Linked DNA regions of Homo sapiens. The protein of the gene in region 1 purifies or fractionates together with the protein of each later gene. This does not show direct contact. Each region holds a gene or a part of one and is shown in the gene's direction. Other genes may lie near its edges.

Region 1 (4,406 bases):
TTCTCAGAAGGCACCTTGGCAGTATGAACCAATATTTTTAGAGTATATGCCAATTTACTAAGTGGCTCTAAACATCTTTAAAAAACTCATATGCGTATATTAAGAGATATAGCCAAGGATGTTTATTGCTGTGTTGTTTATAAAAGCAAAAATTTGGAAATATCCTGTACTTCCATTAAGAGAGGAATGGTTAACTAGGAGACATGCACACACTCACACACACACACACACACACACACACACACACACACACCCTCCATCTCCATATCATACAGATAGTAAAAATAGTAGAATGAAGTTGATCTGTATGCACAAATATATCTTAAGTAGAAAAGTAAGACAACCATATTTTCCCTATGATTCATTTATATAAAAACTACTTAATTATCTATATACATATATGTACATAACTATATAGAAAAATGGCTGGGAGGATACATACCAAACTATTAACAGTAATTGGGGCGGAGAGGAAGAATTTCGTTTTTTGTTTTGTTTTGAGATGGAGACTTGCTCTGTTGCCCAGGGTGGAGTGCAGTGGTGCGATCTGGGCTCACTGCAACCTCCACCTTCTTGGTTCAAGCAATTCTCCTGCCTCAGCCTCCCAAGTAGCTGGGATTACAGGCACCCACCACCATGCCCAGCAAGTTTTTTTGTATTTTTAGTAGAGACAGGGTTTCCTCATGTTGGCCAGGCTGGTTTCGAACTCCTGACCTCAAGTGATCCAGCCGCCTTGGCCTCCCAAAGTGCTAGGATTACATTCATGAGCCACCACGCCCGGCCTCATTTTTTACTGTATATATTCATCGTATATATTACTGGTATAAAAATGAACAAAACCGAAAGGAAAAAAGGATAAGAAATTACTCCCTGAAGAATGAAAAAGGCAAAAAGATTAGCAGGAAATTCATCAATGATATTAGGGGAACATTGTTTTTAGGATATTCCCAAAACTTTAGGATTGGATAGGATCCATGGTGTGTATTTTGGCCAGGGCTGTATAGTAATAACTCTGCCCTTTTGTTTCTTTGTATGTTCAACTTATTCTTCTTATTTGTCTCTGTTCTAAAGGTAACTCGGGACCAAATGAAGATGTTTATACAGCAGGAATTTAAGAAAGTTCAGAAAGTGATTGCTGATGAGGAGCAGAAGGCCCTTCATCTAGTGGACATCCAAGAGGCAATGGCCACAGCTCATGTGACTGAGATACTGGCAGACATCCAATCCCACATGGATAGGTTGATGACTCAGATGGCCCAAGCCAAGGAACAACTTGATACCTCTAATGAATCAGCTGAGCCAAAGGCAGAGGTAAAGGAAAAGCCCATAATTATTAGTAGCAAGAGAAATAGGAGGAAACTGATGCCATATTTGTTAGACCCCATGTGGTCCCTGAACGTGAATGAATTGAAGTCTAGGTAGAGTATAAGTGTTTCACATGGTGTATAAACCAGTATGGAAGTATTGGCCACTAGTTTACTCAGTGGCTGGGCCTACCAAATTATTTATCCATCATTACTTTAAGGAGTATAGTCAGTGGGGGCAGATACTAATCACAATTAAGAAAGGAAGCCAAAAATTACAGCCAGAGAAGAGGGCAAGCGACAGACCCCAAGTTGTGAAATGAGCCTTTAAAGTCATCATAGACCTGGGCTGAATGAGAACAAATCATGAAGTAGAGCATAAAGCAGGCCAGAATGAAAGATTTTGGACTTACTTTGTACATAGTGAAAAGGTGTCTCAAGCTGGTTGTTATATGGAGCCAGCTGCATAAATTGGAGGCATAACTGCTGGATTAAGAATGGCATGTGCACTAGGGCATTGTAAGATTAAAAAAAAAAAAAAACTATGAATGAAAGACACAAGGTAAATGTTGAATCACTATACAAATGTTAGTTGTCATATTCATTGTTATTTTTAACGGGAATAAAAGGGTCTTAGGCATTTTACCAAACAACATATTTAGGCATTTTGAATCTACTTTGAAAAAATTATTTAAGGTAGCCATTAAAAAAAAAAAGTACAAGCTGGGCTCAGTGGCTCACGCCTGTAATCCCAGCACTTTGGGAGGCTAGGGTGGAAGGATTGCTTGAGTCCAGGAGTTTGAGACCAGCCTGGGCAACATAGTGAGACCCTGTGTCTACAAAAAAAAAATAAAAAAGTAGCAGACATGGTCTCACCTGCCTGTAGTCCCAGCTATTCAGGAGAGGTAGGAAGATTACTTGAGCCCCGGAGGTTGAGGCTGCAGTGAGCTGTGATTGTGCCATTGCACTCCACCCTGTGTGACAGAGTGAGATCCTGTCTCAAAAAAAAAAAAAAACCAAAAAACTTATATTTCAGCCACTAGAGAGAGGCTACTATTAATCAGATTTCATAATTTGACAATTCTAGTGAAGGTAATGCCAGATAGGTTTAGGGTAGGTCCTTCTAGAAAAAAAACATAGGAGAGTCCTGTGGACTTTCTAGGACTGTTGCTGACTCAGCAAGTCCATCCTTAACTGGACGTCCTGCCTTGGCTTGAGAGAGCCTGGCCACAGAATAAACTGGCCAGTAGAAGAGCCAAAGTAATCCAGGAGGCAGGTATTTCCAAGCTATCCTGACAGGAAATGTAAGAAACCATTGAAAGGTATCTGCTATACCCATCCAGGGCTTTTGATTAATTTTCATCAATGTGTGAAAAGAATAACTCTTCTTCTTTTCATTTTATTCTCCCCATAATTGAGAAATTATGTGCCTACATAAGTTTCTAGATAGGCAAGAGAGCACTTTATATTCATCATTTCATTTAATCCTTACGTCAGCATTAACTCCATTTTACAAATGGGATATTTGAGATACAGAGAACTGCAGAGATACTGACCCAATATCATTTAGTCAGTAGAAAATAGAGCCAGGGTTTAGATTTAAGTCTGTGCTATTTCAGTGCCTGTGCTTTCCCCCTACTATAAGACATATGCTAAGCATCCCATCTGTATCTGTGGGAAAATGAGAAGAATCCATGTTCTAGACAGCTTTGCATACCTTTACAATGTCAAGATGGTCAGTTTGTGTCTTAATAAACAAAAGGTTCAACCAGAGTTAATTCAAGGGATCGACAGCATAATTCTGTCCACAGTTCCTATCAAGTTCGACCCCTTCATTTATTCCCTATGTTGATTAGGTTGTTCTTTGAAAAATAAAAATTTAATTTTGGCTAGGCGTGGTGGCTCACGCCTGTAATCCCAGCACTTTGGCAGGCCGAGGTGGGAGGATCACCTGAGGTCAGGAGTTTAAGCCTGCCCTGGCCAACATGGCAAAACCCTGTCTGTACTAAAAATAGAAAAATTAGCTGGGTATGGTGGCGAGCACCTGCAGTCCCAGCTACTTGGGAGGCTGAGGCAGAAGAATCGCTTGAACCCAGGAGGTGGAGGTTGCAGTGAGCCAAGATTGCAGCCACTGCACCCCAGCCTGGGAGACAGAGTGAAACTCCATCTCAAAAAAAAAAGTTTAATTTTGGGGTTTATTCTTCTCTTTTATTTTAATCTATGAATTTAGTCCTTCTCTGACATTAGCTGTCCTTTAAGCACCTCAGCTGTACTATGCTTGTTAACTCTGATGGAATTACTCTTAAAGGGATGCAAGAGCTGACAAGGCTTAAGGACCAGGCTACAGACAAAATGAGCTATTAAAAACAGAGATAGCGTTCAGCCACTAGAGTGTTTACAAAGAGCTGTTATTATTTAATAGCCTCTTGTTCCAGTTAATCTGGTAACTTATTGGTGAGAGCAAATATCTAGTACCTGTCTTTCAGTCATCAGAGGAATTATGTTCTTTTTGTGGTATAGAATTTATCAAAAATCACCTGCATTTTGAATTCAGCCATAAGACCTTCCCTCCAACATTTTATTATAAAATTTTTTAAACATACACCACAGTTGAAAGGATTTTACAGATTATGCCTATGTACCTACCACCTAGATTCTCCTATTAACATTTTGCCGTACTTGCTTCATTACATATCTAGCCATCTTTTCAACCTTCCACTCACTGATCTATTTTATTTTTGGCATATTTAAAGCAAATTGCAGCTTCTGGTTCTGAGCAAGATGGAGTAAACACATTCTATTTTACTCCTTTCACTTATTACAGTAGAAATCTCTGGGCAAAAATGCTGAAATCATCTACCAAAAGACTCTTGCAGGTGGAAAAAAGATGGCATACTGATCAGGGACCTTGGGATTTGAGAGGATACAAGGCAGTGAATTCCCTGGGGTTTTCTTTACTTCCTATGTATGCTAGCCTGGGTGTTCTACAAACTGGAAACACTAATACACACAGACAAAAAAAAAATACCCAAGAAAAGCCTGCTTCTGGAAGCAAACATCATGAAAAAAGTGGCACTGCTCCTCAACCCCAATTGGCACGCA
Region 2 (4,276 bases), on another chromosome or scaffold:
GTCTCTAAGATTTGATTTCCTTTTCTTTTTCACACAACTGTGTGTTTGCTCATTAGTAAAAGTTGAATAATATACAGTGTTTACATTTTAATATTTAATTGTTGGATGAATCTCACTTCAAGGGGTAAAGGCTATAGTTCATTGACAGTGATGAAATAACCTAGCTGGCTTTCATATAAATAGCAACGAATGTGCACAATAGTTACATTACATGGTATATTTAACAACACTGCTAAAGAGTAAGATGGGAGTTCAGTCTTTCCTGATGGAGATACACCTGAGTGCATTCAGAGAAAATTTGGTTCTGCAAGCTTGAAGGAAGTAATTGTTATTCAACAGAAATCAACTAACTTTGCATATCAGTAAAATACACACACATACTCTTAGCTATTTTCTGAGTGCTCTGGAACTGATATCAAAATAGCAAATATATATTTATGAGAAGTAGAAATGCTGTATTCTTTTCAGTCACATAAACTCAGTGTAATTATGAAATTAACTTAACTTTGAGAAGATATGAAAAATGTTACTTCTTAACCAAGTAAAGATCTAATAAAAACTACAAATTTTATATCAAGTTACATCATTTTTACATGCACATTTGTACCCCAAATACCATGCCATTAATTAATTTTTCACTGTTCATTTCTAGATGGAAGACTGTATTTGAAAACTACTGTCATGTACTGAATCTTTCCTGTTGAAGAAATCCATGTTATAGAAAAGAACTTTGCAGTCAGACATTCGTCATGGGAAAGTTCAGAAAAAAATAAAGTCCTTTTAAGGGAACTTCCTGAATTTTGTGTATTAATGTTCTTTAAAAGTTTAAGTATTCTACAAAAAAAAAAAAAGTTTTCTCCATTGATTTTCACCTGTGGTTCATACCAGAGACCTGAGAATGTTTGTAAATGTACAAGTATCAAAGTTCTTACAGTTAATTACTGCAACTTGCTGCTGGACAATTGTATACAGAGTTAAAGGCAGGTCTGAATAAGACCTAGCTTTGTTTTTTTCTAATGGAATGAACCATTTTCCTCTTCTGAAAATTCTGTATCTGAGCACATCAAGAGACTCTTGTAGCAGTGGTTACCCAGACTTACAGAATTATGTCCTCCAGAAACCAGCAAGAACACTTGGAATGAACGAATGAACTTGTAGGGGGCATAGAGGATTCTTGAAAAAAAAAAATGCAAGAGTGATTTTCTGTTACATTCAATTTCAAACTCTCTAATTGTGGGTTTTCTCCTGAAGAATTTTTTTTCACATACTTTCCAAAAGACCAACAAATGGATGTTGACAACAACCCAATGAAATAACATTTTGCATATCTGAAAAGAAGCATTGAATATAAGCCAAAAGCTTTCACTGAAGGTTTTTTTTTCTTAAAAATAAAAAAAAATATATAAGTGTAACATGTTTTCATTCCAAACTGGTAGTGGTATGTAGAATTAAAGATAATAATGTTGCTTCTTATTCAAACTGTTGGTCATATGTACAGTATATAAACATAAAACACACAAGGAAGGTATTATGTATGCAGTAGTATACTAGAGTTTAGGAAAATGAAAATTTTAGAAAATATGTTTTGTCACCCTGTTGGTCAGAAAGATGTCTTTCTGGTTTTAACGCATGCAGGCATGTAAATATTTGTCTGGAGTCACAGTATTAATGAATGAGATCTTAAGCATCTGGTGACATCAGAACTCTGTGTCAGCCACTTTTATTTGTATATTGAACCCTAGCTAGTGCCCCAAGCTGCACTATTGGGAATGGATTGTGGCTGAACAGCAAATCAAAACACCAGAAATATTTTTATATGTTAACGTCATATTATGTTAATGTTGCTGAAAACAAAACCTAACAAACCTTGATGTACCAGTCCAATACCATGTAGCGCTGAGTGATAAAGTTAAAATGTGCTGTGCTTCCCACCCTTGTCAGAGGGAAGGGTGGCTATGTGTTATTTTCACTGTCTTTTTGAAAGTTACAGTATGTGTTTTCACTTTCGTGCAGATAACTGGAAGTAAAGCGGCAAACAGTGCTTATTACATGCTAAAGTTACCTTCTCTTTGTTTTTTGCATATCTGGAATTACACCTTTAAAGACTGATATGAATCAGTACGGTCACTATACATTTTATGATTTTTCTGTCATCTTAAAATTGTATGATCGTAACATTATTTATTACCACAAAACAGCAAAATCTTCAATGTCTAAGAAAACTAGCTTAAAATGTTTAAATATAGTTCTGATTGGGTATTAATTACTTGATTAAGAAAAAATTAACATTATAGATACTCTGGCATTACGCTTCTATACCTTTTAGGTCTTCCTTGCAATACTGGAACATAATTCTTTTGTGTAGCTCACTATTAGCCAGCTAAGTTCATCTTTTTAATACCATAAAAAGGTTATATGTACAGTTCCTATTTTAGCTTGCTTACAAAGGGAGCATTATTTTTATTTAAAGTATTGCTAGTAAATGATTTGTAGAAACTTGGTTTTCTAAGCATAGTTCTTCCATAACCACCTTTTGTTGTTTGAGCACAAGGGATTCTTTTCCTAGTTCTATGTGTTTGTTTCCCTATATGCAGTCTTTAAAGGATTACAACACTTAAAATTGAATGGACTTGTGTCAAGCTTTTTGCATCATACATTTTTTGAAAGATTTTTAAAAAAGCCTACAACTTACATATGTAGTAGAATCAGCCATTGCTCTGCTCCTGGCATAGAGTCACCTGTTTGTTATGTGGATTAAATAGTTTTAAAATACATATTTGAAGACCTTTGAGAATGCTTTAGTGTTTGATTTGAAATAAAAGGAAATTTTAGCAAGGATTAAAGAAAAAAGCTATCAGCTGTATGTTAAGAGAGACTCTTACTAACATGTTGTAAATATTACAATTCATGAAATGTTATTGTAAGTCTGTAACTTAATTTTTTCCCTGTTTTAGTTATACAGGTTGGTTTGGAAATTTGTGTTTTGGCATAAACAAGTAAAATGTGCCCATTTTATGGTTTCCATGCTTTTGTAATCCTAAAAATATTAATGTCTAGTTGTTCTATATTATAACCACATTTGCGCTCTATGCAAGCCCTTGGAACAGAACATACTCATCTTCATGTAGGACCTATGAAAATTGTCTATTTTTATCTATATATTTAAAGTTTTCTAAAAATGATAAAAGGTTATTACGAATTTTGTTGTACAAAATCTGTACAAAAATCTGTTTTTACATCATAATGCAAGAATTGGAAATTTTTCTATGGTAGCCTAGTTATTTGAGCCTGGTTTCAATGTGAGAACCACGTTTACTGTTATTGTATTTAATTTTCTTTTCCTTTTCAACAATCTCCTAATAAAACTGTCTGAAATCTCCCTGTGACTTTATTTACAGTTCATCTTTATTAAATTTTGTGAAATGCATAGCATTGAAGGAATATTTACTTTCTAATGGGAGGCATCTAAAAACAACACAAGTCAGCTCTTTGCAATGCAAGGGGAACAATGCTCAATGATTTTATTTAACATGCAACTGCTTCTATCTCTAATATGAATTACTGTGGTGAAAAACATCATAAAAGCACACTCTGTAGTTATTGTTTAACAAGCAGATTTTCCATATTTTGTTTCTTGCCAGCTAAGCAAACTGCCCACATATACATGATTTATTTATGTACATTTCTCAGTTTATGAAGCTGTTATTTGTACCTTTTTTCTTTATATTCTTATATTCCCATGATTCTTATTTCACAAAGCTTTGTGCTGAATAATGCAAAGTAGACATGTTGATGGAACAAAATATATTATTCCCATATCTATGAGTGGAGATTTGTAACTCTAACTCAGTGTTTTGCTTTTGATCTCTATCTTTGGAAAAAAAATGCCTTTAGAAACTTTGAAATTACAATATCCTTTAATAATACATAAACACTTTAATCAATCAAAAGTGCAGCATTTGAAGAACTATCGGGTTGCTATCTCTGTGAATATTCTAAACATTCCCAAGAGAAAGGAAAATGAATTTTTCTGTCTAAAGGTATGATTTTAATGAATTCTTGAAACAGTATATTAAATTATGATTTTTTTCCTTAATAAAACCTAAAACGTTTATGATGTGACCATTACAAGCACATTTTTGTCTTCTGTCATCATATGTTTATGTCAGTAAGACTAGCACTAGAACATCATGCAGTCTCTGGATGTTAGTGAAACTCAGTGATAATTTAGGTTTGCCCCCATGTGTTTTCATTGAGACTAGCAAATTTATAATGT
Region 3 (3,500 bases), on another chromosome or scaffold:
TAGCAGAATTTTGAATTGTAGTGGTAAAGTGGGCATTATTGCTTTGTGTTTGATCTTCTGGGGAAAACATTTAGTCTTTCACCATTAAGTCTGATCTTAGCTGTAGGTTTTTTGTAGGTGCTTTTTATCACGTTGTGGAAGTTCTCTTTGATTTCTCATTTGCTGAGAGGTTTTATCAGGGTTGGATGTTGGATATTTTTCAAATGCTTTTTTACTGCATATATTGAAATAGGTGGTTTTTCATTTTTAGTCTGCCAATGTGGTGAATGACATTGATTTTCAATTATGAAATTAGACTTACATTCCTGGGATAAACTGAACTTGGTCACAATATACTATTCTAATTATATTTTGTTGGATTTGATTTGCTAAAATTTTGTTGAGAATTTTTGAACTTATGTTCATGGGATAGTTGTAGTTTTCTTGTAATGTTTTGGTGTTGGAATCAGTAATGTAGCTTCAGAATGATTTCTGAAGTATTCTGTTCAGTTTTCTGAAAGAATTTATACAGGATTGACATTTTATACCCAACTTAAATTTTTGGTAGAATTCATCTGAGCCTGCACTTGTCTTTGTAGGAAGATTTTTGACTACAAATTTACTTTGTTTAATAGATTAGAGATATTTGTGTTACTTATTTTTTTCTTTTTTTTTTTTTTTGAGATGGAGTCTCGGTCTGTTGCCCAGGCTGGAGTGCAGTGGTGCGATCTCAGCTCACTGCAAGCTCTGCCTCCTGGGTTCACACCATTCTCCTGCCCCAGCGTCCCAGGTAGCTGGGACTACAGGTGCCCACCACCATGCCCGGCTAATTTTTTGTATTTTTAGTAGAGACAGGGTTTCACCGTGTTAACCAGGATGGTCTCAATTTCCTGACCTCGTGATCTGCTCGCCTCGGCCTCCCAAAGTTCTGGGATTACAAGCATGAGCCGCCACACCCGGCCACTTATTTTTTTCTTGAGTGACTGTTTTCTACTTGCAGTTCTATTAGTTTTTGTTTCATGTATTCTGACAATCAGTTTATGTGAATACATGTTTTATGGATTAAAATATTAGATTATTATTATATCCTCTAAATGAATTGGCTTGTTATCGTTATGAAATGGCCCCCTTTATCCTTAGTAATTTTTTTTTGTTCTAAAATGTCCTTTGGTATTGATGCAGCCAGTCCAGCTTTATTGATTAAGGGGTTAGCATGGTATGTGTTTTTCAATACTATTACTTTCCCTTATTTATATTTAATGTGAATTTCTTATAGGCAGCATATAAATGGGTCTTGCTGTTTAATCAGACAGTTCGTGTCTTTGAGTTGAATTATTGAAGCCAGGCATGGTGGCTCACATCTGTAATCCCAGCACTTTGGGAGGCCAAGGCATGTGGATCACTTGAGGCCAGGAGTTCAAAACCAGCCTGGCCAACATGGCGAAACTGTCTCTACTAAAAATACAAAAAAATAGCCAGGCGTGGTGGCATGTGCCTGTAGTCCCAGCTGCTTGGGGGGCTGAGCCACAAGAATTGCTTGAACCCAGGGGGCGGAGGTTGCAGTGAGCTGAGATTGTGCCACTGCACTCCATCCTGGGTGACAGAGTGAGACTCTATCTCAAAAAAAAAAAAAAAAAGAAAAGAAAATTAATTGAGTTACTGAGATTATTTACGTTTAATGATTATTGATAATGGTGGGTTTACTTATTTATTTTTTGACTGATAGCATACCTGATTTATTTATTTTTTTCACATTTCTGTTTTTTATTTTAAATTTTTTTTTCCTTTTCTATGTTTAGATGTTTATTTTTAATTTTTTTAAATTTTTCCATAAGTTATTGGTGTACAAGTGGTATTTGGTTACATGAGCAAGTTTTTTTGTTTGTTTGTTTTTTGAGACGGAGTCTTGCTTTGTCACCCTGGCTGGAGTGCAGTAGTGCTATCTCAGCTCACTGCAATCTCCACCTTCTGGGATCAAGCCATCCTCCTTCCTCAGCCTCCCAAGTAGCTGAACTACAGGCATGTGCCACCATGCCCGGCTACTTTTTGCATTTTTAGTAGAGACAGGGTTTCACCACGTTGGCCAGGTTGGTCTTGAACTCCTGAACTCAAGTAATCTGCCCACCTCGGCCTCCCAAAGTGTTGGGATTACAGGCGTGAGCCACTGTGCCAGTTTAGTGGTGATTTGTGAGATTTTGGTGCACCTATCACCCGAGCAATATACGCTACACCATATTTGTAGTATTTCATCCCTTGCCCCTCTTTCATTCTTCCCCCCAAGTACCCGGAGTCCATTGTATCATTCTTATGCTTTTGCATCCTCATAACTTAGTCCTGCATATCAGTGATAACATACGATGTTTGGTTTTCCATTCCTGAGTTACCTCACTTAGAATAATAGTCTCCAGTCTCATCCAGGTCACTGCAAATGCTGTTAATCCATTCCTTTTTATGGCTGCATAGTATTCCATCCTGTATATACCACAGTTTCTTTATCTACTCGTTGATTGATGGGCATTTGGGTTGGTTCCATGATTTTGCAGTTGTGAATTGTGCTGCTATAAAATTATGTGTGAAAGTATCTTTTTTGTATAATGACTTCTTTTCCTCTGGGTAGATACCCAGTAGTGGGATTGCTTGATCAAATGGTAGTTCTACTTTTAGTTCTTTAAGGAATCTCCACGCTGTTTTCCATAGTGGCTATACTAGTTTGCTTTCCCACCAGGACATAGAAGTGTTCCTTGTTCACCACATCCATGCCAACATTGTTTTTTTTTTGAGATGGAGTTTCGCTCTTGTTGCCCAGGCTGGAGTGCAATGGCGCAATCTCGGCTCACTGCAACCTCTGCCTCCCGGGTTCAAGTGATTCTCCTGCCTCAGCCTCCCGAGTAGCTGGGATTACAGGCATGCGCCACCATACCCAGCTAATTTTGTATTTTTAGTAGAGACGTGGTTTCTCCATGTTAGTCAGGCTGGTCTCAAACTCCCGACCTCGGGTGATCCGCCCATCTCGGCCTCCCAAAGTGCTGGGATTACAGGTGTGAGCCACTGTGCCCGGCTTTTTTTCTTTTTTTAAGTCAAAGGCTCACTCTGTTGCCCAGGCTGGGGTGCAGTGGCACAATCTTGGCTCACTGCAACCTCCGCTTCCCAGGTTCAAGTGATTCTCCTGCTTCAGCCTCCTTAAGTAGCTGGGATTACAGGTGCCTGCCACCATGCCCGACTAATTTTTGTATTTTTAGTAGACATGGGGTTTCACCATGTTGGCCAGGCTGGTCTTGAACTCCTGACCTCAGGTGATCTGCCCACCTCAACCTCCGGAAGTGCTGGGATTACAGGCATGAGCAACCGTGCCTGGCTGCCAACATCTACTGTTTTTTGATTTTTTGATTATGGCCATTCTTGCAGGAGTAAGGTGGTATCACATTGTGGTTTTGCTTTGCATTTCCCTGATCATTAGTGATGTTGAGCATTTTTTCATGTTTGTTGGCCATTTGTGTATCTTCTTTTGATAATTGTCTATT
Region 4 (4,406 bases), on another chromosome or scaffold:
CTCTGGTATCCTCTTCCATTATTTTTTCACATTTTACATACTAGTTATTAAGGTCAGTCTATTTCTCATTTATTGCCTATTAATAAACCAGAGCTGATACACTGTGCACTCTCCATATGTGTCTGTTGAATCCTTGAATCAGAAACCAACGTGATACTCAGGACATTATATACCATTTGTGTGTATATACAAAATTGGGATTTGGTAAGTGTTTTCAATAAAAGGAATGCTCACGTAATAGTTAAATTCAAAGACACAAACTTCTAGGAGCCATTTTTAGATACATGGACAAGGATTAAATTAAAATGTATACAATTTTTATTGAAATCTAGGCAGATGGTGTGTTTCCAGAGATAACTTTTCTTTCCAAGATACGGCTACTGTGGAATCTAATATTTGATGAATATTAGATAAAGACACAGCCAGAGACTCATATCAAACGAGGCTCCCTACAACTGGAAGGGCCGTAGGCATGCATAGCACTGAAGTAACACTGATTCATTCATTCAGTATTTATTATGTATCTACGAGATACCAAGCACATACAGTAATGATGAACAAGACATACATCACCCTGTCACCACTTTTCTCATGTAGAAATTGCAGAGGATATTTTAAGGCTTCACTAAAACAAATACCCTTTTCTAGAATATAAATTAGTAGTGATTACACACTGAAGATCAAAACTCTCACACTCCTTGTGTATCCTATTAGTGTTATCCAACAGAAATTTAACACATAGTATGTATATAATTTTATATTTTCTGGTAGCCACATTTAAAAAGTGTAAACAGGTGAATTAAATTGGGTAATATATTTTATTTAACTTAATGTATCAAAAATATCATTTCAACATGTAGTCAATCTTTTTTAAATTATTAAAGTAATATTTTAAATTTTTTATTTTGTACTAAACCTTCACATTTCAGCATATACATTACACTTATAGCACATCTCAATTTGGACAAGCCACATTTCCAGTGTTCAACAGCCACATGTGGCCAGTGGCTACCTTACTGGACACTGGAGGCTTATGTGTGAATCAGCCCCCATTGAGCTACAACCTGTTGAAGTTTACAAGTGGACTCCCGATAAATGGAGAGCTGATGGTATTTCTGGACTATAATGTTAGAGGAAAGTCACTGGATACAGTGACTTTCTGTTATAGCTCTATAACGCTCCACCAGTTTTCATCTGCAAGAGTCCCAGAGTTTTACTATATTTGAAGACAGATCTATACTAAAGTAACACTGATACATTCATTATTTATTATGTATCTGCAAGATATCAAACACATGCAGTAATGATGAACAAGACATACATGCATGTCAGACATACATGCATATATGCAAATATGTACAAGTGGTCTTGAAGATTTTAATGTTCAGTGATTTCACTAGTAATGAGACAGCTTTTGAGGACCTAAAAAAAATCTCTACTCACATTTCTCAATTGATATCTGATGGGGAATGTTGAAACGAACCAGTAGACCATATATCAGTTCTCTGATACACAAATAAAATGTTTTCAGCTCTAGGTTAATGAGCCTATGCTCATTTGCATGCTTGGCTTCCATTTAAAATTCTTTTGCATTTCATTACAATAATTTTTTCCCTCTGCTCTAAGGTCATTGTTTCCATTAAGTTATAGTATAAATCCCCTTATTTTCAAGAATATGATCTCTTTACGACACTATACACGAAGATCTGTGTTTTAAATTTGATATGGTTTGAATGTTTGTCCCCTCCAGATCTCATGTTGAAATGTGATTCCCAATGTCAAAGGTAAGGCCCAGTGGGAGGTGATTGGATCATGGGGGCAGATCCCTCATGAATGGTTTAACACCATCCCCTTGGTGATAAGCGAGTTCTTGCTCAGTTACTTCATGTGAGATCTGCTTGTTTAAAAGTATGTGGCACCTCTCCCCTCACTCTCTTGCTCCCATTCTCACCATGTGGTATGCTGGCTCCCAGTCATCTTCTGCCATGATTGTAAGCTTCCTGAGGCCCTCACCAGAAGCTGAGCAGATGTTGGCATCATGCTTCTTGTACAGCGTACAGAACCATGAACCAAATAAACTTCTTTTCTTTAAAAATTACCCAGGCTCAAGTATTCCCTTACAGCAATGCAAAAACAGCCTAACCCAGAATTCTCAATTTATAGTATCTCATCCAGACTGCCTCTCAACTGGAATTTAGAGAGGTAGTGACTTGGAACCAGTTTGGACGTGTCATTGTTTTAACACAAATGTTTATAGACTCAACATAAAATTAGTTTTTTAATCTTTTACAGTAGGGTTTCTCTGGGTGGCTGGTACCACCCATCTCCACTCCAACAGAATCACCTGGGGAGGAGAAGCCTGGGCCCACAGCTGAACTGGAATCTCTAGAAATGGTGTTCGGGAAGTTGCATGTGTAATAAGTACCAAGGGAAACTCATTTCACACTGAAGTTTGACAGCCAGTGCCTTATAGTGAAGTTCTACCTTAATATCACTAAGGATAAAATTGCATACTACCATTTGAATCTGTTTTATTACTGGAGGAAATGCTGTTTTCAGTACTTATGTACTTTGTTTACTACCTTTGCTGAACATTTTGTGTACTGTGAGTAAATTTTTAAGGGTATTCATTCAGCTCATAGAAAGTATGTTGTGCTTTCTTGATATGTAAGTTATGAATGATGGATTCAACTGAAGTCTAATTATATTGATCATGAATGGACTAATGTCTAAAATCAAATTGACTAGGACCTAGATCATATTCCTTTGTATTTTTTCAAGTGTAGTCTCTGACTGTGTCAGGTAAGATATTCATTGTTTTTTATTTTTTTCTATGAAATTGTTTCAAATGTACTTTAATTAGATCATAATTCTACAGAAAGCCATCGAGCCAGACACAAGTACTAGGGCTTCAAAACAGAATTGAACTCAGTGTTTGCCCTTGGGAAGATTGCAGCCTCTGCAAGGCAGGGGTGAGGGGCAGATATGGAAGCCTTGTGTTAAAATATAAAACCGTGGTACCATGGTTTTAAGTAAAGCAAGGTACCATGGGAGTAGAGAGAAGCAGGGCAAGGGTGACTATCTGAAAAGGCTGGGTTTTACAAAGATGACTGTGTTCTGTTTGAGTGCAAGCCAGTCAGCCAGACAAGTGAAGACATTCCCACAAGGTCACCCAGGACATAAGGAATACCAGAACTTGGTTCTCCTAGATCAAAACTGCACTCATCAAGCTTTCTACAAGAACCTGGCCTTCAAGAGCACACTGGCTTCCCTTTTCTCACACCCAAAACTTTCTCTGGTAGTAAGATGTTAAGAGTGATACATTTCCGTTTCAGGCCACTAACATGCTATTTAATTCATTCCAGCAATAACTAAATGGGAACCTACCTTTAAAAGATGCCAAAAGCAACATCCTGCTAATTGATTGCCACATCTATTAAATCTCCAGAGAGAATCTGACTCCCTAGATTTTAAATATAGTTGAGATATTATGATGATGTTTTCTGATTTAAGCCCTCCATAAATTAGATGCAATGATTATAGTATCTGTTGTCACTTCATTTTTGCTCTATCTCCAGTCACGCTTCTGCCTTCATTAATTCGGAATGAAATATCACAAGACATTAATGTAGCACTTGGAGATAGGAGGGCTACATTTTTATAGCCTCAATATGAAATTGTACTTAAAAGACTCATAAGCCTTTACTGGAATAGCAGGGGGGAAAAGGCACTGCTCATCTTCTATAAGCCTCTTAATAACCTTCCTGGATAGTTATGGATGAGGAAACTAGGGCTCAGAGATGCCCAGGGTCACTCTGCAAGTAATTACCAGAGCCAAAACATGCCCAGGTCTTTCTACTCAAAATACAAGGCTCTTCTAGTACACCCTCTAATCTTCTGGGGATTCTTTTAAAACAGTTTCTTGACTGTTTGCAATGAAAGGCATTATTGCCAATATGTAAACAAAAACAAAAATCTTGGCATCCTCCATCACTTTATCGTCAGTGTTTTTAGTTTATCACTTCACAGTCATTATTTGGTGTTTTCTTACAGAAGGCAACAGACTACTGCAACAGAAACTATCCTTAGATGGGAACCCCAAACCTATACATGGAACAACAGAGAGGTCAGATGGCCTACAGTGGTCAGCTGAGCAGCCTTGTAACCCAAGCAAGCCTAAGGCAAAAACATCTCCTGTTAAGTCCAATACCCCTGCAGCTCATCTTGAAATAAAGCCAGATGAGTTGGCAAAGAAAAGAGGTAAAGTGATTTCTTTTGCACAAATGATTCAACATATTTTGCACATACAGAAAAGTGCCAGAGTGACAGAACTTTCCAAAAGATGCTGCTTAGTGAAGAGAGATGCACATGAAATTGCATTTTTTTTTCTGTGACCCACATAGATG
Region 5 (4,406 bases), on another chromosome or scaffold:
GTTTCCAGCCAGTGTCCTGGTCCTAGCTCGTGTCTTCTCCCAACAGAGGGGTCATGACGCTGCACGTGTGTCCCTGCCTGGGTGTCTCTCCCTGTGCTGAGGGCTGTGTTCTGGGGAAGCACCCCCTCCTTGCTCCCTGTAGGAGCCAGGCCCCATGGGGAGGAGCCACCTGGCCACAGGAGGGAAGCCGGGCAGCCCCAGCCCTGCATCCTCTGTACCTGCCCTGGCCGGCCCCCACACCCACACCGTTCTCCCTACGAATGTCCACTGAGTATCTGCTGTATGCCAGGCCTCGGGACACCACGAGCACGGGAGAGGGGCTTGGGTGTGGGTTTGGACCACGTGGCCAGGACGGGCCCTTCCAGAAGAGATATTGGAGCCCCCGAGGAGCTACGGGGTGAGGGGTGTCGGAGAGGGCACTTCAGATGGGGCAGGTGTTCGGGGAGCTGATATGAGGGCCTGTGAAGACGGGGAAGGGCAGGCCGCAGGGGGTTCCTGCCTCCGTCCCTCCAGACTGCAGCTTCTTCCCCTCCATCCCAGGGCCTGCCCACCTCCACCCTCCCTGGGCCCTGGGAAAGAGGAGCCTCTGTCTGGGGACAGTGTGTGTGTGACAAAGCGTGTAGGCAGAGCGGCCTCTGGGCCTTGCTGCTGTGGGAAGCCCCTGCTCCTCCTCCTTCCCTAGTTGTGTTTTTTACAGCTGGGCAGGGGTGGGGGGGGCGGCGGGAGGATTTGGAGGCATCCGCCTTCTTGGCGCACTGCCTCCGAGTCTAGTCCTCCATACCTGACAGCAGTGAGGCCCTGTCTCAGACTCAGTTTACTCTCATGTCTCGCTCCCATGTGGCCCTTGGTGTCCTGCCTGTGCTGGGGGCCTCTCGGCTGTGGCTAAGTGTGTGTGCAGGGCAGGGGCTGTGCTGGAGGAGGAGGCTGGGGGGTGTCTTGGCAGGGTGCACGGCCCCGGAGGTGGCACAGTGCTGCTGTCATGCCCCGGCGGGGGTTCCCTGTGTTTCTTCCTGGCTGCAGTGCGAGGCAGCCGGTCTTCCCACCAGGTGCCTGTGCCCTCAGGTCCTGACTCAGTTTCCCCATAGGCTGCGTGGGTTGGACGCCCGTCCAGGTGGCGTGGTGCCCTGGCCGCTGTCCTGGTGTGATCATTCCCCAGGAATCTGGGGGGATGGGCTTCCTCCTGGGCAGGCCCTCCTGCGGGGGGTCTTGGGCCGGCAACAGCAGGGGGTCCGGGGAGCCCAGGTGGGGGTGGGATAGGCCTGGCGAGGGGGAGGGAGGCTGTTTGCTTTAGGATAAGCCTGGCTCCTCTGGCCCAGCTGCCTCTGCCCGTGCCTACAGCGCTTGCAGGCCGGCCCTGGGGGCCACGCTTCCGGCCATCCAGCGGTCATTTGTCTCTGCCCCCTTTCTCAGTGGTGACCACAGGCGGGGGTCCCGCCTCCCTGTCTGTGCCTGTCATCCTGCACCTCCCGCATGCCTTTGGGGACCCTTACCTCACCAAGCCTTGCTTGTATCTGCCTGGGGCAGGGTGGGGGCTGGGAAACCTTCCCGAAGTGTAGCTGGGGCTTTCAGCCTCTGAGGTGGGCTCCCTCCCCAGATGTGGGGGGCTGGGTCAGTGTGCTCCCACCCAGGACAGGGCCAGGCACTCGCTCTCTTGCTTCTTCTGGACAGTTGTGTGGGTGAACACTTGTGTGCACCCATGAACATGCACGTGTGAGGCCTGTGCCCAGGTAGCCAGCCAGGAGGCCCAGGCACCCCTGCAGGCTGTGGGCCACAGGGGCTGGGCTGGCCAGGGGCCTTGGCCACTCCCCCTTGGTCCCGGGAGGCCCTGTGGGTGGTGGGATTTCAGGCAGCGACAGGTGCTGGTGGGGTCAACCTGGGGTGCGTCTGGGACCTGGGCCGGCTGGGAAGGGGTCAGGAGGCCCCAGTGCTGTGGGCCCTGCAGCCGCTTCCTCCCCGGGACAAATTTGCCAGAGCTGCCCCCAGCCCTGGGCAGCTCACAGAACCACACTGAGGGGGTGGTGGGCTGGCAGCCCCCCACAGCCGCCATCTCATTTCCTCTCCGGGGAGCTGCAGGGAGGGTAGGGAAGGAGGGGCTTCAGGGCTGGGGCCCATGGCCTGGGTGGGAGGGTCCTGAGTTGAGGGAGAGACGTGAGTCAGAGAAGAGACCCCCACATGTTTTCTCAGAGAGGCCAAGGACTGGGATGGGCCGGGTGAGCCAGGGCTGAGAAGAATCCCTCCCTCCAGAGCCTCAGCCCACCCTTTGTGTTTCTGGGCACAGCAGGGAGGCGCCGTGTCTCCACTCCCAGCCCCAGCGGCCAATGATGCCTGTGGGCTCAGAACCTAGAGGCCCTGGGCAACGCCCCCTGTGCTATCAGCACTGATTGGGAGGCCTCCAGAGAGGTGATAGGGATTCTCTGTGAGGGTCCCTGTCCCCAGACTTGGGGGTCAGAATGGGAGCTGCTCCCTGAGTGTCTGAAGACGCCAGTGGGAGACGTCACAGGGCCACTGTTAACTGTGTATTGGAGGAACACGCGGCCCCAGGCCCCATCGAGATGGCCTGGAGCAGCTGCTACCTCTTGGTGTTCTGCACGCAGCCTGGACGCTCCCAGACAGCAGTGGCTGCAGTGCGGGATGGACACTGTCACCCATGGGCTGGCGAGAGATGCCCTGGGAACTGTGGGGTGCCTGCGGCCGCCTCTCCGACATGGAGAGCAGTGAGTGGGCTGTGGTCGCCGCTGCAGGACTTGGGAGCAGCACGTGGGGAGTGGGGCACGCAGGGCCCTCCTTTCCCAGGAGCTCCATCCAGGTACAGGCCCTGCGGTGCCCCGAGTTTCTGAGGCCTGCAGGGTCTGTGTGTTCTAGGTTCATCTTCCTGGCCGGCTTGGCACTGCCCACTGGGGCTGGTCACACACACACAGAACCCTGGCCCTGCCTTCCAGCCCAGAGGCACCCAGGCAGGGGATGGGGTGGGGTGGGGACTGAGGCAGGGGATGGGGTGGGGACCCAGGCAGGGGATGGGGTGGGGACCCAGGCAGGGAATGGGGCGATGGGGCGGGGTGGGGACCCAGGCAGGGGAAGGGGCGGGGTGGGGACCCAGGCAGGGGATGGGGTGGGGTGGGGACCCAGGCAGGGGAAGGGGTGGGGCTGGGGTGGGGACCCAGGCAGGGGATGGGGCGGGGTGGGGACCCAGGCAGGGGAAGGGGCGGGGTGGGGACCCAGGCAGGGGATGGGGTGGGGTGGGGACCCAGGCAGGGGAAGGGGCAGGGCTGGGTGGGGACCCAGGCAGGGGATGGGGCGGGGTGGGGACCCAGGCAGGGGAAGGGGCGGGGTGGGGACCCAGGCAGGGGATGGGGCGGGGTGGGGACCCAGGCAGGGGAAGGGGCGGGGTGGGGACCCAGGCAGGGGATGGGGCGGGGTGGGGACCCAGGCAGGGAATGGGGGTGGGGTGGGGACCCAGGCAGGGAATGGGGTGGGGACCCAGGCAGGGGAAGGGGTGAGGTGGGGACCCAGACAGGGGGTGGGGTGGGATGGGGACCCAGGCAGGGGATGGGGTGGGGCGGGGACCCAGGCAGGGGATGGGGTGGGTTCCTTTCTGCCAGGAAAGGAGGCCTCTGCCAGGAAAGGAGGGCTCGGCTTCTCCACATAGGGTGGGATGGTGCAGGTGGCCATGTGGAGCCGCAGCCTTTCTGCTCCTGTGGGTTTCACAGGTGGTGGGAGGACATACTGGCTGCCCCCCAGACAGGAGCGGCAGTGCCCGTGGTCAGCCCGAGCTACGTCTCTCCAGAGGCTTGCTCTCTGACCCCAGGGCCTTGGGGTCATGCCCCCTCAAGGCTAAGGTGCCTGGCAGGGTACGGCCCTTGGGGGTGGGCAGACAGACCTGGGCATCTGTGGTCCCTGAACTCAGGTCTGATATTGACACAGACGTGGGTGCTGCACAGACTCTCATCCACACATTGCACAGGCTCAGGCAGCCCGCCGTGCTCGGTTGCTTGTGGATAGCTGTGGGGTCGCTGGCCCATGCCCAGGCCCGGCTGGGCCCTGGGCTGATGGTTGGGTGGGAATTAGGTGAGGGGCCTGGGGCCTCTTTGGGACCCACCAGGCCCCCCATCCCCCTACTGCCCTTGTCCTTGGGGGGCCACTGTCCCCTCTGACCTCGGGTGTACGGCTGCTTCCTGTATGACCAGAAGGAGACTCTGCCCTTTTGGTTGGTGGTTTTCGAGAGTTACCAAGCGCAGCTGTTTTGCATCCTCTGGGGACCCTGCTCCCTTCTCGTGTCTCAAAGAGCCAGCCTCTGGGGCCACGGGGCTGCCCCGGCCATGAGAGGCTGCTGACGTGGTGTTTGCTGGGCCAGTGCTCAGGGCTTTGGTGCATGTGGGCAGCTGAGGCCTGGGTCAGGGGCACTGCAC
Region 6 (5,057 bases), about 89 Mb from region 1:
TAATCCTTCTCAATCTCTTAGCATTCTCCTCCTCTTTTTCTCAGCCTCTGTAATACTGACATACCCTGGGGCTGTTTTAGGATTTATTCTTTTATCTGTCTATATTCAACCCCTTGATGACTCCATCCAGTCTCATGGCTTTAAATCTACAGGCTAACGACTCTTAGATTTATATTTGTAGCCCAGAACCCTTCTCTGAGCTCCAGACACTTTTTCTCATACTATCTTCTCGGATGTTGATTAGATAAAACTTTATCTGCCCCAAACTGAACTCCTGATCTTCCCCTTTCCAAATCTACTCCTTCCACCATCTTCACTATCTCAGTAAATAGTAATTTCATCCTGACAGCTGCTCAGGATGAAACCCCTAGTTTTCCTTGACATCTCTCCCTCACACAATCCATATCCAAACCTTCAACAGATCCTGAAAGTTTTGCCTCCCAAATAGATACAGAATCCAACCACTTATCATCATCTCCACCACTACCTCCTTGATCCAAGACATCACAATCCCTTAACTGAATTATTGCAATAGCCACCTAATTGGTCTTCTTTACAGTCTATTCTCACTACAGCATTCGGAATTATTATTTTTTTAATTTTGTCACATTATGGTGTTCCTTTGCTCCAAACCTTGCTCCAGTGGCTCCCCATCTCAACACCTATGGTGGCTTACGATGTTTGATCGGATTGCCTGCTTGACCTACTGTCTCAGCATTCTTCCACTCTCCCTCTGCTCCAGTCACACTATCCTCCTGACTTTTTCTCAACCAGGCAATGCTTCCACCTTGGGGCGTTTATACTTGCTGTTATATCTGGAACATGTTTATAAAGCCTCCGTTGAAGAGCACAGTGGCTTCTTCCATTAACTCATTTAAGTCTTTGCTGAAAAGTATCTCAGTGCAGCTTCTCTGGACGTTCTAATATTTCATCCCTCCAATCCCCACCCTGCCCACCACACTCCCTATCCGCTTTCTTTGCTTTTACTCCACATCACACACATTTACTTACTCATTGTTTATTCGCTTATTTCCCCTCACTCTATTGTGAATTCCCTGAGCAGGGATATTTGTTTCGTTCATAGCTATGTATCTCCGGTGCTTGGAACAGTACTGGTTTATAAAAAGTTAGTAGTAATGTATGTTAATCGAATGAATAAATTATCCTACAGAGATAATTGAGTGTCTCTGGATTACAGCAGAGCTTGCAGCAGAGAGGGAGACCACTCAACAGGCCGTGATGTCCAAATATAATAAGATGTATGAAACAGTACTGTAAAATTAGCTGCACAAAGGATCCGAAAAATTTGTTAGCTTAGTTTGTTTCTCCAGGAAGCCGTGCCAGGCTCGCCTCCCTCTTTCATTCTTTTCCCGTGATTCCCTCTACTGGGACTCCTGACCCTCCTAGTCGCCAGATCACAGGCCCAACGCATCCCTTTCCGGAGGGATTTAGGAAGTCTCGGCGTTGGTCCAGGAACGACAGTCCCACCGCGCCTCACATGGCGCATTACCCAGCGACTCCGCTTACCCACACGTCCCCGCCCCCTCAGCCGGACAGGAAGAGGAAATGACGATACCTCGGGCGCTCGAAACTCCACCTCTCACGCCTTCCCAGCTCCGGGAGGGGACGCGGGCTCCGGAAAGGGCGGGCATAAGGCTACGGATGGGCGGGACGGAGCAGCCCACCGCAAAGTGGCGGTCTACTTGAGGCGGTTACCTTAGTACTCCGAGTAGACTGAGTCTGTGGCGAGCTGCGGGCCGATTCCTGGCCAGTGCCATCTCAGCCGGAGCAGGCCTCGGGGCCTCAGAAGCAGGCTTTTATCTGGCCCGAGGCTCCCAGCCGTTCAGCGCGTCTTCCCATAACCTATACCGATTATTGGGACTCTCGGCTGCAGACACAGGTCCCCGCCCCTCCCTCTTTCTCCGGGTTGCAGCTGTCATTCCTCCCTTCCCGCCTCGCTGCGCCCACAGCTGAGGACAGTCTTCGTTCTCTCATTCCCATCCTTTCTCTTCCCTCTCATCGCCATTTCTTCTAGAAGGCAACTTAAAAACCTTTCTTTGCCTCTTTATTTCTTCCCATTTCTCTTCCCTTCTTTTCTTCCTTTTTCTCTAGAATCCGTGTGTTTCCACTTCATGCCAGGCTTCTGCCTCCAGGGCTTCTCTCCTTTTCACGGGCCTGTGGCTCATGTGTTAGGAGGTTGAACTTTTAATGCAGTCATTTGAAGATTTTAAGCTTTTTCTTTCTCCTAATCAGGAGTCACAGATGCTGGGAAGTATGGCCCGAAAGAAACCTCGAAATACCTCAAGGTTGCCCCTGGCTTTAAACCCCCTGAAGAGCAAGGACGTGTTGGCAGTGCTGGCTGAGAGGAACGAGGCTATAGTACCAGTTGGGGCATGGGTGGAACCTGCCTCACCAGGTAGTTCGGAAATCCCAGCATATGTGAGTGTCAGTTTGATCCAAATATGGTGGGGTTCCCCACCACCCTTTTTATTAGCCTTCTCTAATCCTGGGTGCTTAAAGATGAACAGTCCGAGGATGCTGTTTCTATTCTGCCATAAATAGTTTATGCTCTTGCATTAGGATTATAGAACAAGTATTTGCCAAAACTTGACTGCAGCTTTAGTTGGCATAATCAAATATTTATTACTCACCTACTATAATATATAGAGCATAATCTACATGGAACAGGTTATATAGATATATATCTGTATATCAGTTTACTTCAGACTCTTGATTGCTTGTTATGCCCAAGACATAAGCACTATCTACATCTTCCAGACACTGCAACTTAGTATGGATGATAGTTGGCATACTTCAAGTAACATTAATTGGTTGCTTAAGGTTTATGATAAATTTTGTAATGAGGATTCAGGCAAAATGGAGTAATAGAATAAAGGAGAAAGAGATGAACTCTGATAATCTGAGAAAGTCTAACTAGAAATTCCATGGTTTCTGATAGTCTTTCACCAAACTGTGCCCCTTAGCTATTTGTTCAAATTTAACTTGGCACTTACCACATTGTGTTATAGTAGATTGTTTATATATCTTTTCCTGATGCAGTGTGAGCTCCTTGAGCGTAGAGAACAAATGTCATTTATCATCACATTCCCACTTTTATCTTAAATACTGCCTAATCAATATAGACACTCATGAAGTATTTATGAAAGGCACAAAATGTCTTCTGTATGTGTAGACAAGGTGCTGAACATGGATGAAAAAAGGATGAGATATGTTCCCTCAGTGTACTTGATCTCAGAAGAGAAATGAGATGTGTTTAAATGTTAAAGTAATGCAATATACTATATTCATTTTATTTATGTTTGCACATATGTATGTATATTCATTGATTTATTCCTACCCTGCCTATTTCCAAAAAGGATTTTAAGAGTCTAGGTGGTATCTCTATCTAAGTTCTAAGAATATAATGCTCAATCAAGAAGCTATGACGTTGGGTTGATGTGACCCAGGAAAGTGTAATGAAGAATTTGATCGGAGAAGGGAAGGGAATGATTCTCCTATTAAGGAGAATGAGGAGAGTAAGAAGTAAGCAAGGTTCAGGATTCTAAGGGTAGATTAGATCGATTGGAGTGGAAAGCTTAGTAGGAGAATGGTTGCTGACAGGATTATGGAAAATAGGGATGGTAGAGTACCTTAGGAAATTTTGGAGAAGGGATTGACTTTGTTTAATATTTACAGGTGAATGTCATGATCAACCAGTGTTTTCTTTAGATGAATTGCTTCAAAGGTTTTGAAGGATAGGGAGTGATTGGATCCTGGGGATAAATTAGAATATAATTATAATAATTTAAGCATGGAGTATAGCATCGAAACTTTGTTAGTGGTAAGAAATAGAGAAGAACAGCCTTGAAAAAGGATGATTGAAGTGCTTGAGCCCACGAATTGTAGGCTGCAGTGAACTATGATCATACTACTGCACTCTAGCCTGGGCAATAGAGTGAGACCCCATCTCTGGAAAAAAAAAAGGAGTGGAATGAGAAGGGATGAATGCAGGAAACACCCCACAAGACTTGGTAAGATTTGGTATAAAGATATTTTGGTATTTAAGTTGTTGACACCTCTTTGTAATTGCTCAAATTACATCTGTATAATATCAGTAGTGTCAACATGCCTAAAATTTGACACCATCAAACTTTTTCTATGTTAAGAAGTATTGACTATCGTATTCACACACATTAACTCAAAATATTAAAGTCTTGGAACATGGATAAACATATCTCCTTTTCCTGATTTAAAAATTTCTGATCAGTTCCAGCCAAAGGGAGTTTGATCAAGCATCTAATAGAACTCCTTATAGCTTTAGCATATCTAGTCTGGGTATCCACCCTTATTAACGGATATAGCTCTGTCAGCTCAAAATAAATGCTGAATAGTTACTTCTAAAGCTTGGCCCTTAGATCATGTCTGTTCTAAAGGGGAACTTCTACTCATTTTTCTCCCCAAAATTTCAGGGGGCCATCAGGATTCCTAAAAATGTCATAGCTTTAGACTACCTCCCCCCAATAATTATTAATAAATTAGCATCAAAAGACACTGCTGTTCTATCATCATATATGGGATTGCATTATTTTATAATTTGTTCTGGTTACCTTTTGCTGTGTAACCAACCACCCCAGAACTTAGTGGTATAAAGCAAATAATACTATGTAACAGGAATTTGAGCAGGGTACAGTGGTAATGGCTTGTTTCTGCCCCATAGTGTCTGGGACCTCAGCTGGGGCTCAAATAACTGGACATGTCTGAGACACCTTGACTATTTTCCGGCTATTGGCTGGAGCTAGACAATAGTCAAGTTCTCCCAGTAATGTGGCACCTGCTGGGCTGTAATGTCCAAGATGGCTTTCTTATTCACATATCTGACGCTTGGCCTAGGATGACTAGAATGTCTGGGTGCTGGTTAGATATGTTTCTCTTTTCACATGGCTTCTCTGTTTGACTAACTTGGGCTTCCTCACAGCATGGTAATCTCAGGGTAGTCTGAATTTTTATATGGTGCTGACTTCCTTCAGAATGAGCACTCTAAGAACAGAGGTGGAAGT
Region 7 (3,670 bases), on another chromosome or scaffold:
CAAAACGTGGATTCTCTTATTTTATCTTTATTTATTTTTTGAGACGGAGTCTTGGTCTGTCGCCCAGACTGGAGTGCAGTGGCACGATCTCGGCTCACTGCAACCTTCACCATCTGGGTTCAAGCAATTCTCCTGTTCCTGCCTCCCGAGTAGCTGGGATTACAGGTGTGTGCCACCATGTCTGGCTAATTTTTGTATTTTTTAGTAGAGATGGGGTTTCGCCATGTTGGCCAGGCTGGTCTCGATCTCCTAACCTCAGGTGATCCACTCCCCTCAGCTTCCCCAAAGTGCTGAGATTATAGACATGAGACATCGCGCCCAGCTGAAAACATGGATTCTCTTTATATCCTGATACTTCAATTTTTAAAACACTCCTGTTTTAATAGGCATTTTTGCTGATTTTCTTATTTTAGGATCCTTTTCCCAGTTTAAAATCTTATAAAAGACAACCCTTTGTATATATGAGAAAAGCCTTTTCTGAAAACATACACATTCCATTATTATCTTGAGATTTAGATGCCTTTTGATTCAGTGTTTAAATAATTCCAAGCTAGTCATTATTATTTTTGACAGAGTCTCGCTCTGTCACCTAGGCTGGAGTGCATTGGCGTGATCTCGGCTCACTGCACTGTCTGCCTCCTGGGTTCAAGCGATTCTCCGGTCTAAGCCTTCCGAGTAGTTGGGATTACAGGTGCGCCCCACTGTGCTTGGCTAATTTTTGTATTTTTAGTAGAGACAGGGTTTCACCATGTTGGCCAGGCTGGTCTCAAGCTCCTGGCCTCAAGTGTTTCGCCCACCTTGGCCTCCCAAAGTGCTAGGATTACAGGCGTGAGCCACCGTGCCCATTCCAAGCTAATTGTTTATGTAAGAATTGCACATGGGCCGGGTGCGGTGGCTGACGCTTGTAATCCCAGCACTTTGGGAGTCCGAGACGGGTAGATCACCTGAGGTCAGGAGTTCTAGACTAGCCTGGCCAACATGGTGAAACTCCGTCTCTACCAAAAATACAACAATTAGCTGGATGTGGTGGCACGCGCCTGTAATCCCAGCTACTGGGGAGGCTGAGGCAGGAGAATCGCTTGAACCCAGGAGGTGGAGGTTGCAGTGAGCCAAGATCTTGCCATTGCACTCCAGCCTGGGTAACAAGAGTGAAACTCTGTCTCACACACACGCACGCACACACACACACACAAATTGCACATAGTAAAAGAATGGGAGAAAACAGATTTATAGTCTTAATGGTGTGAGAACACTGGTTTCTGTGGGTAGTACAGAAGTTTCCAACTCACCTGAAAATGAATGGTAGGTTGAGTGTATCCTGTGCCCTATGTTTCTGCTTAAATTGAGCAGCTTTATTTTATTATTTTTTTTTGAGACAGAGTCTTGCTCTGTTGCCCAGACTGGAGTGCAGTGGTGCAGTCTCGGCTCACTGCAACCTCTGCCTCCTGGGTTCAAGCAATTCTCCTGCCTCAGTGTCCTGAGTAGCTGGGACTACAGGTATGTGCCAAGACGCCTGGCTAATTTTTGTATTTTTAGTAGAGATGGGGTTTCACCATGTTGGCCAGGCTGGTAATTTTTTGTGGAGACTGGGTTTCACCATGTTAGCCAGGATGGTCTCAATCTCTTGACCTCATGATCCGCCCACCTTGGCCTCCCAAAGTGTTAGGATTGCAGGCGTGAGCCACTGCACCCGGCCTGAGCAGCTTTAAGTAGATTTTAAAATTATATATATTCTTTAATGTGAAGATGTTGTGATTCTCATTTTTGGTGATTAGCACACCAACAAATGGGAAAGGATTGCAAATTCTTAGATTTATTTAAAAGCGTAGAACTAAGCTTCTCGTGAAGCTAGATGAATAGAAACACGGAGCATCTATAAACTGGATTAAACATAGGGGGGTACAAACCTCCTGGATATTTTTAATTCTTAGGAAGAAGGAGAATTTAGCACCAGACTCTTGAAAAGCAGTGGCATGAAAGTTAGTTTGATATATTGTTTGAGTTTGTATTGCCTTAGGCCCTGAATCAAGACCAATGGTTTGCTGTAGCTGTTGGTTTCAAACAGGAGCTAAGAGTGATGTCTTCCTTGTGGTCTGTTGGCTATTCAGTATTCCAGTGCGAATTGCCAATTCAGTTGGAAGAAACATAGTCTAGAATGTAATGTCATTTTTTTTTTTTTTTTTTTTACAGAGCAAAACTATGTTAGGCTTAAGAACCAGGGAGTTGGCCGGGCGTGGTGGCTCATGCCTGTAATCCCAGCACTTTGGGAGGCTGAGGTGGGCCAATCACTGGTCGGGAGATCAAGGCCATCCTGGCTAACATGGTGAAACCCTGTCTCTACTAAAAATACAAAAAATTAGCTGGGCGTGGTGGCACACGCCCATAGTCCCAGCTACTGGGGAGGCTGAGGCAGGAGAATCACTTGAACCCAGGAGGCGGAGGTTGCAGTGAGCCGAGATCACGTCACTGCACTCCAGCCTGGGCGACAGAGCGAGACTCTGTCTCAAAAAAAAAAAAAACAAAACAAAAAAAACCAGGTTGTTGCTCTGTCGGGATAGGGACTTAACCAAAATAATATTTCCTAGCCATTCAGAGGAACTGTGAGTTTTCTGTTGTCCTTCCTTTCTTCCTACCTTCTCCCTTTCCCTTGTTGGAGCTTGTTTGCTTGCTTTGTGGCTGTTAGGATATTAATCAGGCAATCTTGTATTACCCAGCAATATTTAATTTTAACGTAGCATTGTTCATATTTAAATTAATCACTGGTGAACTTACATGTTCATTACAGGTAGCCTCAGAGAATATGCTTTTTTAAAAAATATTTTTTTAATTGTAGTAAAACATACATAACAAAATTTTACTCTTTTAACCTATGTATGTATGTGTGTAAGTAGGTGGGTAGGTAGAGATGGAGTCTTGCTGTGTCACCCAGGCTGGTCTTGAATTCCTGGCCTCAAGTGATCCTCCCACTTCGGCTTCCCAAGGTGTTGTTATCATAGGCATGAGCCACTGCACCTGGCCGTTTTTAAGTGTACAAGTCAGTGGTGTTATGAACATTTACCATGTTGTACAGCTATCACCATTTTCTGTTCCAGAACTTTTTCATCAACCCAAACAGAAACTTTGTACTTTTTAAACAGTAACTCTCTCCTTTCCCTTTCCCCTGTTCCCTACTATTCTCCGTTTCTACTTTGTGTTTCTGTGAATTTTCCTAGAATTTTTTTTTTTTTTGAGACAGGGTCTGGCTCTGCCACCCAGGTTAGAGTGCAGAGGTGCAGTCTCGGCTCACTGCAGCCTCTGCGTCCCAAGCTTGAGGGATCCTCCCACCTCAACCTCCAGAGTAGCTGGGACTACAGGTGTGTGCCACCGCGCCTGGCTTATTTTTGCAGTTTTTGTAGAGACGGGGTTTCACCATGTTGCCCAGGCTGGTCTTGAACTCCTGGGCTCAAGTGATATGCCTACCTTGGCCTCCCAAAGTGCTGGGATTAGAGGTGTGGTGGCCAGAATTTTGTTTTTTAATCTACTGTATTGGTCTATGTTTTACACTTGGCAGCAAAAGCTCTCAGTGCTTTTGGATCTTGTTTCATTTGTTGGACGCTCTTGTAAAATTTTTTTTTTATTAAAGGTAGGCTAGGGTTGAGGGAGACAGCAGAGTATTGCTTTAAAGTTTGCT

Evidence for each region.
Region 2: the proteins of TRIM44 (region 1) and DACH1 purify together in Homo sapiens (affinity purification with mass spectrometry; 2 studies listed by BioGRID and IntAct, with this or other methods). This does not show direct contact.
Region 3: the proteins of TRIM44 (region 1) and DDX24 purify together in Homo sapiens (affinity purification with mass spectrometry; 2 studies listed by BioGRID and IntAct, with this or other methods). This does not show direct contact.
Region 4: the proteins of TRIM44 (region 1) and SPATS2L purify together in Homo sapiens (affinity purification with mass spectrometry; 2 studies listed by BioGRID and IntAct, with this or other methods). This does not show direct contact.
Region 5: the proteins of TRIM44 (region 1) and FGFRL1 purify together in Homo sapiens (affinity purification with mass spectrometry; 2 studies listed by BioGRID and IntAct, with this or other methods). This does not show direct contact.
Region 6: the proteins of TRIM44 (region 1) and CCDC15 purify together in Homo sapiens (affinity purification with mass spectrometry; 2 studies listed by BioGRID and IntAct, with this or other methods). This does not show direct contact.
Region 7: the proteins of TRIM44 (region 1) and KANSL2 purify together in Homo sapiens (affinity purification with mass spectrometry; 2 studies listed by BioGRID and IntAct, with this or other methods). This does not show direct contact.

What each region holds. Positions count from the first base shown.
Region 1 is NC_000011.10:35,724,853-35,729,258, forward strand, and holds part of TRIM44 (tripartite motif-containing protein 44), read left to right. Parts: intron 1-1,071; coding exon 1,072-1,311; intron 1,312-4,406. UniProt on the Homo sapiens protein: May play a role in the process of differentiation and maturation of neuronal cells. May regulate the activity of TRIM17. Is a negative regulator of PAX6 expression.
Region 2 is NC_000013.11:71,437,069-71,441,344, reverse strand, and holds the end of DACH1 (dachshund homolog 1), read left to right. Parts: intron 1-652; coding exon 653-690; 3' UTR 691-3,379; downstream 3,380-4,276. UniProt on the Homo sapiens protein: Transcription factor that is involved in regulation of organogenesis. Seems to be a regulator of SIX1, SIX6 and probably SIX5.
Region 3 is NC_000014.9:94,071,203-94,074,702, reverse strand, and holds part of DDX24 (ATP-dependent RNA helicase DDX24), read left to right. Parts: intron 1-3,500. UniProt on the Homo sapiens protein: ATP-dependent RNA helicase that plays a role in various aspects of RNA metabolism including pre-mRNA splicing and is thereby involved in different biological processes such as cell cycle regulation or innate immunity.
Region 4 is NC_000002.12:200,435,069-200,439,474, forward strand, and holds part of SPATS2L (SPATS2-like protein), read left to right. Parts: intron 1-4,053; coding exon 4,054-4,260; intron 4,261-4,406.
Region 5 is NC_000004.12:1,017,650-1,022,055, forward strand, and holds part of FGFRL1 (fibroblast growth factor receptor-like 1 precursor), read left to right. Parts: intron 1-4,406. UniProt on the Homo sapiens protein: Has a negative effect on cell proliferation.
Region 6 is NC_000011.10:124,952,471-124,957,527, forward strand, and holds the start of CCDC15 (coiled-coil domain-containing protein 15), read left to right. Parts: upstream 1-1,731; 5' UTR 1,732-1,900; intron 1,901-2,253; 5' UTR 2,254-2,262; coding exon 2,263-2,439; exon of another isoform or gene 2,440-4,001; coding exon of another isoform or gene 4,002-4,031; intron 4,032-5,057. UniProt on the Homo sapiens protein: Plays an important role in primary cilium assembly, maintenance, and length regulation. Interacts with centriole inner scaffold proteins to promote proper centriole size and integrity and assembly of functional cilia.
Region 7 is NC_000012.12:48,655,127-48,658,796, reverse strand, and holds part of KANSL2 (KAT8 regulatory NSL complex subunit 2), read left to right. Parts: intron 1-2,014; exon of another isoform or gene 2,015-2,149; intron 2,150-3,670. UniProt on the Homo sapiens protein: Non-catalytic component of the NSL histone acetyltransferase complex, a multiprotein complex that mediates histone H4 acetylation at 'Lys-5'- and 'Lys-8' (H4K5ac and H4K8ac) at transcription start sites and promotes transcription initiation.